Linked DNA regions of Homo sapiens: region 1 is linked to region 2. The links come from fine-mapping of genetic effects on gene expression. A gene starts in region 2. The other region holds a variant in brackets. All regions are shown on one strand. Distances are between the middles of the regions.

Region 1 (8,341 bases), 460 kb before region 2:
TTTTTAATAATAGCCATTCTAACTGGCATGAGATGATATCTCATTGTGGTTCTGATTTTCATTTCTCTAATAATCAGTAAGGTTGAGCTCTTTTCCATAAGTTTGCTGGCCACAAGTATGTCTTCTTTTGAGAAATGTCTGCTCATGTCCTTTACCCACTTTTTAATGGGGTTGTTTGTTTTTTTCTTGTAGATTTAAGTTCCTGATAAGCTCTGGATATTGGACTTTTGTCAGATGGATAGATTGCAAAAATTTTCCCCAATTTTGTAGGTTGTCTGTTCACTCTGATTATAGTTTCTTTTGCTGTGGAATAGCTGTTTAGTTTAATTAGATCCCATTTGTCAATGTTTGCTTTTGTTGCAATTGCTTTTGGCATTTTCATCTTGAAATCTTTGCCCATACCTCTATCCTGATGATACTGCCTAGATTTTCTTCTAGGGTCTTTGTAGTTTGGGGTTTTACATTTAAGTCTTTAATCCATCTTGAGTTAATTTTTGTATATGGTGTGAGGAAAGGGTCCAGTTTCAATTTTCTACATATGGATAACCACTTCTCCTGGTGCCATTTATTAAATAGGGATTCTTTTCTCCATTGCTTCTTGTTGTCAGCTTTGTCAAAGATCTGATGGTTGTAGGTGCGACGTCTCATTTCTGAGCTCTCTATTCTGTTCTATTCATCTATGTGTCTGTTCTTGTACCAGTACCATGCTGTTGTGGTTACTGTAGCCTTTAGTATAGTTTGAAATTGGGCAGTGTGATGCCTCCAGCCTTATTCTTTTCACTTAGGATTGCCTTGGCTACATGGGCTCTTTTTTTGTTCCACATGAGCTTTAAAATAGCTTTTTCTAATTCTGTGAAGAATGTCAATGGTAGTTTAATGGGAATAGCATTAAATCTATAAATTACTTTGGGCAGTATGGCCATTTTCACAATATTGATTCTTCCTATCCATGAGCAAGAAATGTTTCTCCATTTGTTTGGGTCATCTCTGATTTCTTTGAGCAGTGGTTTATAGTTCTCCTTGAAGAGGTCCTTCACTTCCCTTATTAGCTATAGTCCTAGGTATTTATTCTTTCTGTAGCAATTGTGAATGGGAGTTCATTCATTATTTGGCTCTCTGCTTGCCTGTTGTTGGTGTACAAGAATGCTAGCAACTTTTGCACACTGATTTTGTGTCCTGAGAATTTGCTGAAGTTGCTTATCAATGTAAGAAGCTTTTGGTCTGAGACAACAGGGTTTTTTAAAGTAAGTGCTGATTTGGGAACATGACCTCCTCATCACATGAACCTCATACTAACTTTCATCATAGCAGTGTTTGATTTTTCAAAGACAGCCAACTGTGACACAACACCAATATTTTCTCAAAATCTTTGTAACTGGCATAACTAATAAGGTAAAAAAGTTTGAATTTGATAGTATGAGTAGGATAATTGGGGATGAACACTTCAAATTAACTCACAAATCTTGATAACTTATCATAATAAATAATGTTTAAAAAAATGTAACTGTGCAATACAATGATTGATTACATTTTTGTAAGGCAAAAGACCCAAATTTTAGAGTGAAAGCACAGATATATTCTCAAAAACATCATTTGAGTTTCCACAGTCATTTAATTTTGTATACATTTCAAAAATGAAGGTGAAATAAAGACTTTTTCAGTATATCTAGAAAAACCCATAATCTCAATCCAAAAGCTCCTTCAGCTGACAACTTCAGCAAAGTTTCAGGATACACAATCAACGCACAAAATTCACCAGGAATGTACAAAAATCACCAACAACAGTCATGCCAAGAAATAAGCCAGGAATGCAATCCCATTCACCGTTACCACAAAAAAAATAAAATGCCTAGGAATACAGGAATACAGCTAACCAGGGAGGTGAAAGAGCTCTACAATGAGAATTACAAAACATTGCTCAAAGAAATCAGAGATGACAAAAACAAACGGAAAAACATTCCATGCTCATGGATAAAAAAAAAATCAATATCATTAAAATGGCCATACTGCCCAAAACAATTTGCAGATTCAATGGTATGACTATCAAACTATTAATGACATTCTTCACAGAACTAGGGAAAAACTATTTTAAAATCCACACGGAACCAAAAAAGAGCCCAAATAGCCAAGGCAATCCTAAGCAAGTTGCTACCCAACTTCAAACTATACTACAGGGCTACAGTAAACAAAACTGCATAGTACTGATACAAAAACAGGCACATAGACTAATGAAACAGAATAGAGAGCCCAGAAATATGGCCACACACCTACAACCATCTGATCTTCAACAAAGCTAACAACAAGAAGCGATGGGGAAAGGACTCCCTATTCAATAAATGGTGCTGGGAGAACTGGCTAGCCATATGGAGAAGACTGAAGCTGGACCCCTTCCTTTCACCATATACAAAAATCAATTCAAGACAGAGTAAAGACTTAAATGTAAAATCCAAAACTATAAAAACCCTAGAAGACCACGATCAAGTTGGCTTCAGTCCCAGGATGCAAGGCTGGTTCAACATACGCAAATCAATAAACGTAATTCATCATATAAACAGATCTAAAGACAAAAACCATGTGATTATCTCAATAGACGCAGAAAAGGCCTTAAATAAAAGTCAACATATCTTCATGTTTAAAACTCTCAATAAACAAAGTATTGAAGGAACATATCTCAAAATAATAAAAGCCATTTATGATAAACCCACAGCCAATATCATACTGAATGGGCAAAGCTGGGAGCATTTCCTTTGAAAACTGGCACAAGACAAGGATGCCCTCTCTCACCACTCCTATTTAACATAGTATTGGAAGTTCTGGCCAGGGCAATCAGGCAAAAGAACAAAATAAAGCATATTTAAATAGGAAGGGAGGATGTCAAATTGTCTTTGTTTGCAGATGACATGATCCTATATCTAGAAAACCCCATCTTCTAAGCCCAAAAGCTTCTTAAGCCGATAAGCAACTTCAGCAAAATCAGTGCGCAAAAATTGCTAGCATTCCTGTACACCAACAACACACAAGTGGAGAGCCAAATCATGAATGAACTCCCATTCACAATTGCTACAAAGAGAATAAAATACCTAGGAATACAGCTAACAAGGGAAGTGAAGGGCCTCTTCAAGGAGAACTACAAACCACTGCTTAAGGAAACCAGAGAGGACACAAGCAAATGGAAAAATATTCCATGCTCATAAGAAGAATCAATATCGTGAAAATGGTCATACTGCCCAAAGTAATTTATAGATTTAATGCTATTCCCATTAAACTACCATTGAAATTCTTCACAGAATTAGAAAAAAACTATTTTAAAGTTCATATGGAACCAAAAAAGAGCCCATATAGCCAAGACAATTCTAAGAGAAAAGAACAAAGCTGGAGGCATCTTGCTACCAGACTTCAAACTATACTATAAGGCTGCAATAACCAAAACAGCATGGTACTGGTACAAAAACAGACACATAGACCAATGGAACAGAATAGAGAACTCAGAATTAAGATAGTACAGCTACAAGCATCTAATCTTCAACAAACCTTACAAAAACAAGCAATGAGAAAAGGATTCCCTATTCAATAAATGGTGCTAGGAGAACTGGCTATCCATTTGCAGAAAATTGAAACTGGACCCCTTCCTCAAACCTTGGATGGATTAAAGATTTAAATGTAAAATCCCAAACTATAAAGATCCTAGAAGAGAATCTAGGCAATACCATTCAGGACATAGGCATGGGCAAAGATTGTATGGCAAAGACATGAAAAGCAATTGCAACAAAAGCAAAAATTGACAAACGGGATCTAATTAAACTAAAGAGCTTATGCACAGCAAAAGAAACTGTCATCAGAGTGAACAGGCAACCTACAGAGTGGGAGAAAATTTCTGCAATCTACCTATCCAACAAAGGTTTAATATCCAGAATCTACAAAGGAACTCAAACAAATTTACAAGAAAAAAACAAACAACCCTATTAAAAAGTGGGAAAAGGACATGAACAGACATTTCTTAAAAGAAGACATTCATGTAGCCAGCAAACATATGAAAAAGGCTCAACATCACTGATCATTAGAGAAATGCAAATCAAAACCACAATAAGATACCATCTCATGCCAGTCAGAACGGCCAGTATTAAAAAGTCAAGAAACAACAGATTCTGGCACAGCTGTGGAGAAATGGGAACGTTTTA[C/T]ACCATTGGTGGGAGTGTAAATTAGTTCAACCATTGAACAGTGTGGCAATTCCTCAAAGATCTAGAACCAGAAATACCATTTGACCCAGCAATCCCACTATGAGGTATATACCCAAAGCAATATAAATCATTCTATTACAAAGGTACATGCACACAAATGTTCACTGCAGCACTGTCCACAATAGCAAAGACATGGAATCAATCTAAATGCTCATCAGTGATGGACTGGATAAAGAAAATGTGGTACATATACACCATGGAATACTACGCAGCCAGGCTGGAAGCCATTATCCTCAGCAAACTAACGCAGTAATAGAAAACCAAATATACCACATATTCTCAGTTGTAAGTGGAAGCTGAACAATAAGAACACATGGACACAGAGAGGGGAACAACACACACTGGGGCCTGTCCAGGGGTGAGGTGTGGGGGAGAGCATTAGGAAAAATAACTAATGCATGATGGGCTTAATACCTAAGTGATGGGTTGACAGGTGCAGCAAACCACTGTGGCACACGTTTACCTACATAACAAACCTGCACATCCTGCACACGTATCCCAGAACTAAAAATTAAAATTAAAAAAAAAACCCTGGAAGACAACCTAGGCAATACCATCCTAGACATAGGAACGGCCAAAGATTTCATGATGACAATGCCAAAAGTAATTGCAGCCAAAACAAAAATTGACAAATAAGATCTAATTAAACCTAAGAGCTTCTACACAGCAAAGGAAATTATAAACAGAGTGAACAGACAACCTACCGAATGAGAGAAAATTTTTGCAAACTATGCATCTGGCAAAGGTCTAATATGTAGCATCTATAAGGAACTTAAACAAATTTCCAAGAAAAAGCAAACGGCTCTATTAAAAAGTGGGCAAATGACATGAACAGACACTTCTCAAAAGAAGACACAGATGCAGCCAATGAGCTTATGAAAAAAAATTTACTAACCATTAGAGAAACGCAAATCAAAACCACAACGAAGGCCAAGCGCGGTGGGTCACATCCGTAATCCCAACACTTTGGGAGGCCAAGGTGGGCGGATCACCTGAGGTCAGGAGTTCGAGACCAGCCTGACCCACATGGAGAAACCCTGTATCTACTAAAAATACAAAAATTAGCTGGACATGGTAGCATGTGCCTGTAATCCCAGTTGTTCGGGAGGCTGGGCAGGAGAATCGCTTGAACCTGGGAGGTTGCAGTGAGCCAAGATTGTGCCATTGCACTCCAGCCTGGGCAACAAGAGTGAAACTCCATCTCAAAATTAAAATAAAATAAAATAAAATAAAATAAAACGACAACGAGATACCATCTCATATCAGTCAGAATGGCTATTATTAAAAAAGTCGAAAAAATAACAGATGCTGGAGAGGTTGTGGAGAAAAAGGAACACATATACACTGTTGGCAGGAGTGTAAATTAGTTCAACTATTGTGGAAAGCAGTGTGGCAATTCCTCAAAGAGCTAAAAACAGAACTACCATTCAACCCAGCAATCCCATTTAGGTTGTTACATACCCAGAGGAATATAAATCATTCTACCATGAAGATACATGCACACAAATGTCCATTACAGCACTATTAACAATAGCAAATACATGGAATCAACCTAAATGTCCATCAATGGTAGAGTGAATAAAGAAAATGTGGTACGTATATACCATGAAATACTATGCAGCCATAAAAAAAAATAATAAGATCATGTCTTTTGTGGGAGCATGGATGGAGCTGGAGGCCATTATCCTTAGCAAACGAATACAGGAACAGAAAAACAAATACCACATATTCTCACTTGTAAGTTGGAGCTAAATTACACAAAGGAAGGAACTCATGGACACAAGGGAGCAACAGATACTGGGGCCTACTTGAGGGTGAAGGGTGGGAGGAGGGAGAGGAGCAGAAAAAAATAACTATTGAGTACTAGGCTTAGTACCTGGGTGATGAAATAATCTGTACAACAAATCCCCATGACGTGAGTTTATCTGTATAATGAACCTGCATACGCACCCCTGAACCTAAAATAAAAAAATTTTTAAAGGCTTTTTCAGACATTTTACTTACCCAGGACTTTTCTTTTCTTTCTTGTTTAAATGTATGGTGTGTAAATGTAGTTTTTGCTATGTGCATAGATTGTGTAGAAGTCAAGGCTTTTAAGGTATCTTTCACCCAAATAACCCAATGTACTCATTAAGTAATTTCTTATCCTCCATTTCCTGCCAACCCTCTCACCCTGCCAAGTCTCCACTGTCTGTCATTCCATACACTACATCCATGTGTGTACATTATTCAGCTCCCAGCTACCCAGGGCTTTTCTAAAAGTAGAAAACCAAAAGATCAGACAAACCCAAAATGCCCACACCAGGCCCCCACCACCTCACACACACTTTCAAGTAACAATGGCCAATGTCCTCATGGTCTCTCCTTTGTTCCAAAGAGAAAACCCTGATCCCATAAAATGACTAACAGACTCTTTCTTTCACAGTGTAATGTAAATAAGTGTTGGCAAAGGAAGGGCCCACAGACCAAATCTGGCTCACCACCTGTTTTTGTTTGGCCTATAAGCTAAGAACAGTTCTTTTATATTTTAATGGTGTTTTTTAAAAAGAAGAATATTTCATAAGTGAGAATAATTACATGAAATTTAAATTTCCATATCCATTAATAATGTTTTGAATTTCATCAATTAAAAATTTGTGGAAATTATTTTCTCTCTTGTTATATAAGTGCCTAAATACTATCCTTGATTTTGTCTCCTGGTTCAACAAAGCTTAAACTATTTACTATTTAGCTCTTTACAGAAAAAGTCTGGCCATCCTTGATGTAAATGACAAATAATAAAAAAGTACCTCTCTTTGGAACAAATGCATCTCTAAAATGAACCAAAGGAATGAATTTTTCATCCTGCAAGGTCAGACAAAAATGTTTTTAACGGTTGGTACATACAAAAAAAATCAAACTCTCTCCTTTATGTAATAGAGTTACATGGGCTATGCTGATTTTATCACTCTGTTTCATACCAGGTTGTTTGAAAAACAAGATAAATTGGCATCTTCCTCCAAAATTAATTTCATTTAGAATTTAGGCCTAAGAATTAAGCAACCACTCTGCTCTTCCTCTCTACTTTAACTTGATTTTTTATTAAAATACTATTTTACTACATTATCATCTTTGAAAGAAATCTACTTAATAATAGTGTATTAAATAATTTTCAATTCATAAAGCCAACAAATAAGCTTTTCATTTTTCTTTGTAGATTGTTCACACCATTCACATTAGGATATTCAGTCCCCCAGAGACACCAGGCCCTTTCTTGGCTCGGCGTCCTCGTTTATGCTTTTCTCCCACTCAGGAATTCACTTCCCAAACACTCTCCTGGGTAGTTCCCCACGCAGCACAGGAAGATAAGAAAGATTTTTTTGTTTTATTTGATGGAAATGGTCTTTTTTTTTTTTTTTTAAATAGAAAGCTTCCAAAACTTCCACACCTTTTGAAAACTATTTTTTATTAAAATGCCACTCCTTAAACACTCACTCAGAATTTATTGATCCCACAACACATTACTTGTATTTTTTTTTTTTTTTTTTTTTTTTTTTGAGACAGAGTTTCGCTCATGTTGCCCAGGCTGGAGTACAACTGCGCAATCGCGACTCACTGCAACCTCCGCCTCCCGGATTCAAGCGGTTCTCCTGCCTCAGCCTGCCGAGTAGCTGGGGCTACCGGTATGCGCCACTACGCCTGGCTAATTTTTTAGTATTTTTAATAGAGACGGGGTTTCGCCATGTTGGCCAGGCTGGTCTAGAACGCCTGACCTCAGGTGATCCACCCGCCTCGGCCTCCCAAAATGCCAGGATTACAGGCGTGAGCCACCACTCCTGGCCACATTACTTGTACTTCTATTTGGCATTTAGGTTGTTATACATTTAGGCTACTAGAATGTGCTTTTAGGATCAACCACCCCTAGTTCCTTGCAGATTTCAAGAAGGTACTTCTCGCCTGGTGTTCCCCATCCCTGGAATTCCAAGGAGCCAGCTGAAAATGCCAAAAAGGAGGAGCCATCCTTGATGTCTCTCCTTTCTCTCACCTTCTAAATCTAATTTAACTAAACCCTTAAATTTGCTGCCTGAAAGTCTCTGGAATCCCCACTGGAGCCTCTTAACCAT
Region 2 (8,341 bases):
GAGTGCCATGAAAAACACGCATATGAACACAATTGCTTTGTGTGGGACTTATAAAGCAGGAAGGTATTTACATTAGTCATTGTGTGTGTGTTTGTGTGTGTGTGTGTGTGTGTGTAATGAAATGCAGTATGTACTGGATCCAGAATTTCTATATGAGAAAAGCTTACTTAACTGCAATGAATTGATAGTGGAAGGTGAGGCCCCTCTTAAATCTATCTGCATAACAATCAAGTAAGACTAAAAAAAACAATTATACATATCAAAGAAGGATCACACTGATGAAATTACCCTCACACCCTTCATTAGTATTAGCATATATCTAAATGTGCACTAAATTCACTTCTATAAATTACTTAAAAACAAGAAATGGGCTGGTGCAGTGGCTAATGCCTGTAATCCTGGCACTTTGGGAGGTCGAGGCAGGAGGACCTGAGGCCAGGGGTTGGATACTAGACCGGACAACAAAGGTAGACTCTGTCTCAACAAAAACAGAAAACAAAATAGCTAGGTGTGATGTTGAGCACCTGCAGTCCTATCTACTTGGGAGGTTGCAGCAGGGAAGACAGCTTGACCCCAGGTCAAGGTTACAGTGAGCTATGATTGCACCACTGTACTCCAGCCTGAGTGACAGAGCAAGATCCTGTTTCTAAAAGCAACAACAAGAACAACAACAAATACCTAGAAAGTGTTAGCTAAAAATGTTAACATGGATGGTGGGCTGAATGGTATTAAAGTAAAATTTTGGGCAATACTGAGCAAAAGGCAGGGGGCCAAGAGTAAAAGATGAACTGGGCAGCCCAAAGAGACATTTAAGGAAGAAAGGGCCTCCATCCTGGGAAGAGGTGTCACAGTTGAGCTTCACGGCCCAAGTCAATGGCTATTACGTCCTATATCATGAGTGTACTCAATCACTAGATAAAAATGTCAGAAAACCCAAGATGGAACAGCTCAAAGGACAAAATGCACCTTAAAATATTACAATAACTATATTATATATTTTTACATATTTTTACTCAAAATATCCAGAACTGTCTAGACATTCATCCTTTTCTTTCCTAGCCTTTTAAATAATATCAAAGAAAGACTGTCTCTTCTTTCTTTTCTCACTTCTTACCTGTCTTTTGTTCTTCAGATTTACAGGGTGAGAAGAAAGTGGGAGAAGTAAAAACAATTCAGACAAGAATCAAACTGGCCTCTAATTAGTCTTAAGGTAAAACTGGTAAACCAAATAAAGTATGTTTAGAGATCTGAAATCCAACACCAAAACACTATAACACATGCTGCTTTACAATACTGGCCAGGTGTGGTGGCTTGTGCCTGTAATCCCAGCATTTAGGGAGGCTGGGGAAGGAGGATCACTTGAGCTCAGGAGTTTAAAACCAGCCTGGGCAACATGGCAAAACCCCATCTCCACAAAAAAATATTAAAATTAGCCTGGGCATGTTGGTGTGTGCCTGTAACCCTAGCTACTTGGGAAGCCGAGGTGAGAGGATCACTTCAGCCCAGGAGGCAGAGGCTGCAGTGAACCGAGATCACCCCACTGCACTCCAGCCTGGGTGACAGAGGTACACCTTGTCTCAAAAAAAAAAAAAAAAAAAATACACACACACACACACACACACACACACACACACACACACACACACACATAGATAGATATAGTATTATGGATCTATATTTCTCTAATATAGCCCATCTCAGTTACTGATTTCACATCCAACCAATTGGCAAAAAATTGAACAAACATTTTTCAATAGAGCAGGGGTTAGTACGCTATGGCCCACAACTCAAATCCAGCCAGAGGACTGTGTTAAAAAAAAAAAAAAAAAAAAAAACTAACTGGGAAACCATTAGGTTGAGACAGCTCCAGCACTTTGGGTTCCTATGTAAACAAACCAAAACCCAACTCAATGTAAACAGTAAAACTAAACTTGAGTTTAATCAATCAGAAACCACCAAACAACTTCTAACTAGAGACATTCCACTGTTACCAATCAAATATTTTCTGTTTCCATAAACACCTTATAAAAGTTTTCCCCTCACACCCTCTTGGTGGAGTCTTGAATAACTTGTGGTCTGGTGATACCCAATTTATGAAATTGCTGAATGCTCATATAAACTCTAAAATTTCCATGTGCCTAAAGTTATCTTTTAACAACTGTTTTTGTATAACCCATGAGCTAAGAATTGTTTTTACATATTTAAAGGGTTGGGAACAAAGTAAAGAGGAAAAAAACAGAAAAGAATGTGTAACAGAGACTGTACAGCCTGTACAACCTAAAATACAGGTAGTCCGAGCTTCACACATTACTTGGTTAGCTGAAACTCTACAAAGCGAGGGCTGCCTACACTTATTGTCTGGTCCCTTACAGAAATAGAGGATATCCAAATGCCAGTAAACACATGAATATGTGTTCAATACCATCAGTCATTAGGGAAATTATGGGAAAACCCCAATGTTATGTCACTATATTCCTACTAGAATGGCTAAAATGAAAAAGACAGTGTGAAATGTTGCAAGCATTTGGAGGAACCAGAATTCTCAAGCTGCCACTGAAGTATAAATTGACACAATATGAAAAACTTTTCAGTAGTGTATACCACAAACACACATCTGCCTATCCTGTAACACAGTAATTTTCTAGTAGGCATATACGCAATAAAAATGTACATATGGCCAGGCGCGATGGTTCACACCTGTAATCCCAGCACTCTGGGATGCTGAGGCAGGTGGATCAGCTGAGGTCAGGAGTTTGAGACCAGCCTGACCAACAAGGTGAAACCCCGTCTTTACTAAAAATACAAAACTTAGCCAGGCGTGGTGGTAGGCACCTGTAGTCCCAGCTACTCGGGAGGCTGAGACAGGAGAATTGCTTGATCCCGGGAGGCGGAGGTTGCAGTAAGCCGAGATCGCGCCACTGCACTCCAGCCTTGGCGGCAGAGCGAGACTCCATCTCAAAAAAAAGAAGAAAAAAAAAAGTATACATAATTTCATCAAAATATTTCTAAAAATCTTTATAGCAGCCCTATTGGTAATAGCCAAAAACTAGAAATACTATACATACAGCATGAGAATAACAAACTGCTACATAACTTGAATAAATCTCACAAATAAAATATTGAGCAAAAATCAGAAACTAAGGACTAAATACCATATTACTCCATTTATATAAAGTAAATAATAGGTGAAATTCATTGATAATGTTGGAAGTCCAGATAATGATTACCTTTGGAACCATGAAGTGGGGCTTCCGGGATGCAATAATGCTCTTTCCTGATCTAGATACTGGATACATGGGTATTTACACTTTGTGAAAATTCACCGAGCTGTACACTTACGATTCATGCACTTTTCTGTATGTCTTTATACTTTAAATATTAACGCAATAAAAATATCTCTATAAACTCTACTCCTTTGAAGGAAAATTGTATACATCTCCCATTCATTTTGCTGATTGCCATCATTACCTCCCATCAATGACATGTCTTGATTCCTATTCCTCACATTAAAAATTAAACTGTTTTAATTAATTTTATTGGCATACGATTGCATAGAATGATTATGTAATTGTCATTTTAGATGAACTCCATACCAGATCACAAGGAAAAACTTTGAAACGCCAATAATTTGTGATAGTATATTCAAGTTATCTGGGGAAGAAAAGAACACCTCCTTGAAATGTAGTTTTGTTTGGCCCTTTGTTTTGGCTTATTTCTATCTACTACCACTGTGATTTAACCTGCATAAAATGCTCAAAGGAGCTTTTCCAAACGCGTGTGTTTGTGGAAAGTTGTTCCTTTCTACCATCCTTGTCTAATAATGCGGCTGTCTTGTTCCCTCCATCCATAGAGCTTAAAATGCTTCCCAAACGTTGCACCAGGTCCAGGGACATTGTGAATCAAAAAAGAAAAAAAAAAATTCTAACAGTATCTTTTTACAGCATGGCTTAGCGCGCTTAAAGAAGCCCCTCATTCTTCGCCCACACTTCCACGTGTGAGAAATGAAATATAAAACGACTCTCTCATGGGCACAGAGTCGATCAGAGGTTGAGCGAGGACTGGAACCTTCTGACTAACCGCGACTTAAGGGGAAAAAAACAAAAAAAATACACCCTTGAATAAATGCTCAGCTGCTCAGGTCCAGTATTAGGAAACTGGAGACAATACCAAAACCATACCCAGAAAGAGCTGTCTGCCACCTGAGGACCCCACGACACTGACCTTCGAGAGAGCCCCATCACTCCCGGCCACGCGGGGTCAGCATTCACTAAGTACAGATTCCGCGGGGCCCCTTCTCCTTCTCCAAGGAAAAGTCTGCGGCCGAAAACTCCAGGGCTGATCTGTGCCCACCACTATCATTCTCCGTCGCCCAAACCTCCCTGCCCAACCGTTTACCTGAGATGCGCCTGGCATAGACCGGGGAGTCGACACTGCGCGCTTGCCGAGTTTCTCAGGCCGAGTGCGCAGCCACCGCGTCAGCCAATCGCCACTGGCTCAGAGCCTCCTGGCTCGAGACTCACCCACAGACGATCCGGCGGAGGAGCGGGGCGGCGCGTGGGGCCTACGGGGCGGCGGCGCGCCGCAGGGGAGAGCGCAAGCGGCGAGCACCGGGCATGCGCGTGCCGCGCTGCCGGGCCGCGAGGCGGGGCCTCCAGGAGAAAGAGAGAGCTTGGGAAGAAGGCCCGGGAGGAGTTTGGAGAGAAAGTAGTCGAACTTAGTCTGCTGCGGTGGTTGCCCTAACGGGATGCTTATGGTTGTCGAATCCAAGACGACGAGCGCAGAACGCTCTTTCTCTTCTGAAAGAGCAAAACGTTGTCTGGACAAAACCTAATAGGATTAGAAGAGGGAGAACGCGGAACTAAAAACGGTGTCTTGTGGCCTCATACTTGGCCTCGTCGAGTTTTCCCAAGACCTGTCGAAATTGTGCTTTCCTTCTTTGTGTGTGGTTTGGGATGAGAGGTGGGAGGGACGTGTTTCGAAGCGGCGGTCAAGTGAAAATGGCACCAGATCGGGCTCCGGTTGAGTGAGCAAAAGTACTATCTAGATCCTGGCCAAAGAACGTTTCACACTAAAACCTTGGAGCTGGTGACTTTTTTTTTTTTTTTTTTTTTTGACTGAAGTGCTGGATGAGATTACGATATGTGAATCCTCTAAGAAAAAATGTTAAACCTTACAGAATTTAAAAATGTCCAAAGTTTTCAATTGGCCTACCTCCGTGAACTAAGAATGGTATAATTAACTGCTAGTAATTTAAATTTGGGTTTTTTGTTCCATAGTTCAGAATTGGTTTTATAAATGTCACTTTAACTCCTGTTACTCATGATTCCTTCAGACACCAAATACTTAGTGACCACATACCATGTGCCAGGTACTCTTCTGGGTGCTGAGTAATAAGCAATAATATTTTTTAATACACCCCAGAGAATAGGCATAATATGAGGTGCTGACGGGTTCCTAAATTTGTGGTTAAAGTTAATGAAAGGAACTTATCCTTTAGTAAGTGTACAAAAGAGAGTTTAAAAAACTGAAAAAGGCCGGGCGCGGTGGCTTACGCCTGTAGTCCCAACACTTTGGAAGGCTGAGGCAGTGGGATCGCTTGAGCCCAGGAGTTCGAGACCAGCCTGGACAACATGGCGAGACCTTGACTTTATTAAAAATCAAAAAAATTAGCTGGGCATGATGGTGCATACCCGTAGTCCCAGCTACTAGGGAGGATGAGGTGGGAGAATCGCTTGAGCCCCAGAGGTGGAGACTGAAATAAGCTACGATGGCTGGCGCCACTGCACCCCAGCCTGGGGGACAGAGCATGACGCTGTGAAAACTAACAAAATGGAAAAGTTGGACGTAGATTAACTTGGAACAACAGAGGTTATAATATTCACCAAATTTTCGTTATGTATGCTGTAATGAACAGTGTTCTCAAGAAGTTTGTTACAGATTCAGCTTTGAAATGCTTTTTTCTTTTTTGCTTTACTTCAGTCAGGATTTGAATCATATTTATGAACATAAAGTACCATAAAAATCTATGAGACAAAAACAAAGAGTGTACAGTTTATCAGAGCAAATACTCCAATCAGGAAGTATATAGCTTGTGCAAAGGCTTAGGGCCAAATCAAATTATGTGTAAAACAAAGGAAAAAGTTGATTTTCCTGGCTAGGAAATAATAAATAAAACAGGATAGTGACTACCACAATGAGAACATTCAAACCATGTAATGAATTAGTAGAATAAATTTAGAGAAAAATTATAATATTTTTCATTGAGTAAAGTTCATTTCCTCCTTTTTTTAAAGCCCATTATCTGGGTGCTTACAGTCTCTGGCATAAAGAGAAACCTCATATTTTCTTTCCTTTTAGTAAGCTGATTTTCTCTCTCTCTCTCTCTGTTTTATGCAGTGAGTTCAAACATTAGGACTAATTCTCCCTATTCTTTTTCCTTTTTCCCTAACATACCTGAAGTAACTCATTAATGTTCTTTCCCTAAACTTTTGATACCACAACAGGTAAGTTTTCCCCTACTCCCCTCCACCACCACCATAACCAACATATCCATTTCTTCATTTTCTATTGTTCTAACAGTTGCCTGTCTATAAGAAATGAAAGAGATAAATTAGAGCTTTTTTCTTTTCTCAAAATGATTATCAAAGATATTGTCTATGTCCTCATACCTCATACAAGCTGGACTTTTACAGAAATATGGATGAAGATGAGAAGAAGAAAATGAACCACTCTTTCGTTACAGGGAGAAAAAGAATGTCATATTATTAATATTATCAAGTCTGTTAATGTCAGATCATTAATATTCTCAAGTCTATAAATATTAGGCTTCTGCAGTGTGTCACACACTGATCAGTTCTGCAAATAAAATAATGAATAACAATTAGGCACACAAGTAGCTGAGAATACCATATGTATTAATCAGGGTTCTCCAGAGAAACAGAACAAACAGGATATGTGTGTATACACAGAGACTACATAGAGAGAGGGACAGTGATTTATTGTAAGGAAATGGCTCATGCAGTTGTGGACTTTTAGTGAGTCCAAAATCTGAGGGAAGAGGCGGGCAAGCCTCAGAAAAGAATTGTAGTTGGACATACATGGAATGTAATCTGTTGTATTCAAAGTCTGGTGATTTAAATGGTAATCTCATCAAAAAAACACCTTCACAGAAGCATCCAGGATAACGTTTCACCAAATATCTGTGCACCATGGCCCAGCCAAGTTGACAAAATTAACCATCACACTGTGTAAACTGAGAAATGGCTTTGGGAGAGGGGAGTTCAGGGGATGAGGAAGACAGAGTCAGGAAAATCTGAAGGAGATAATGCCTCCTGTAGTATGAATAAGACTTAGCAAGGTGAAGAGGTGAGGGTGGAGGTGCAGAGAAAACAGAATTCCTTATAAAGGAATCAATATGGGAGTGAGATACTGTAAGGAGCTATAAGCAATTTAATATCACAGTATAAAATTTAACATGGAAAGTGGTGGGAAATGAAGTTGGAGAGATTATGAAAGGTCTTTTTTAAAAATAGAGTTGGGGACTCACTATGTTGCTGGGGCTGGTATCAAAGTCCTGGCCTCAAGCAGTCCTCCCACTTTGGCCTCCCAAAGTGCTCGGATTACATGCATGAGTCACCATGCCAGGCAATATAAATGATCTCCTAATTAAGTACCTTGGACTTGATTCTATAGTCAATGAATTTTGAAAGTTAAAACAGGAGTGATGAGATTAGATTTACACTTTCATTCATCAATTTAGAAATACGTTTCAGAATCAAAATTCTCAAGTTTGCAAGACTAGTTAATCTAATTGAAAAACGATAAAAAGGCTGGGCTCTGTGGCTCATGCCTGTAACCCCAGCACTTTGGGAGGCTGAGGTGGGTGGATCACTTGAGGCTAGGAGTTGGAGACCACCCTATCCAACATGGTGGGACCTCCCCCCACCGTCTCTACTAAAAATACAAAAAATAGCCAGGCATGGTGGCACATGTCTGTAATCCCAGCTACTCAGGAAGCTGAAGCATGAGAATCACTTGAACCAGGAGGTGGAGGTTGCAGTGAGCTGAGATTGTACCACTGCACTCTAGCCTGGGTGACAGAGTTAGACCCTGTCTCAAAAAATAAATAAATAAATAAATAAATAATAAAATGTATGTGGTAAAGCACGATAGATGGAAAAGGGTAGCTTGAAGAAGTAGGAAATAGTTTGCAAAATCTGGTAAATAACTAGTTGAGAAAGAGGAAAGTGTTGATGGTATTAAAGAAATTGGTGAATAAGTAAGTTCAGTTTTGATAGAATGAGTTTGAATTGCTAGGGAAGCATCTTAGAGTAGCTTTCCA

Alleles and levels. Positions count from the first base shown, and alleles are read on the strand shown. Sizes are in standard deviations (SD) of each study's normalised expression.
For the expression in breast of the gene that starts at base 4,563 in region 2, allele T in region 1 goes with a higher level than allele C (moderate effect, 0.42 SD a copy in GTEx).

What was found.
Region 1: its variant is fine-mapped to the expression of MIPOL1 in breast (GTEx, PIP 0.92).

What each region holds. Positions count from the first base shown.
Region 1 is chr14:37,656,646-37,664,986 of GRCh38, reverse strand. The region is part of intron 3 of TTC6 (tetratricopeptide repeat domain 6); the gene reads right to left. Among named protein-coding and RNA genes, the nearest start is that of TTC6, 65 kb to the right of the region's middle. The variant C/T (reference allele first, on the strand shown) is at 4,179.
Region 2 is chr14:37,194,159-37,202,499 of GRCh38, reverse strand. MIPOL1 (mirror-image polydactyly 1) reads right to left here and starts at 4,563. Exons shown (of 13, transcript NM_001388067.1): 1 at 4,396-4,563.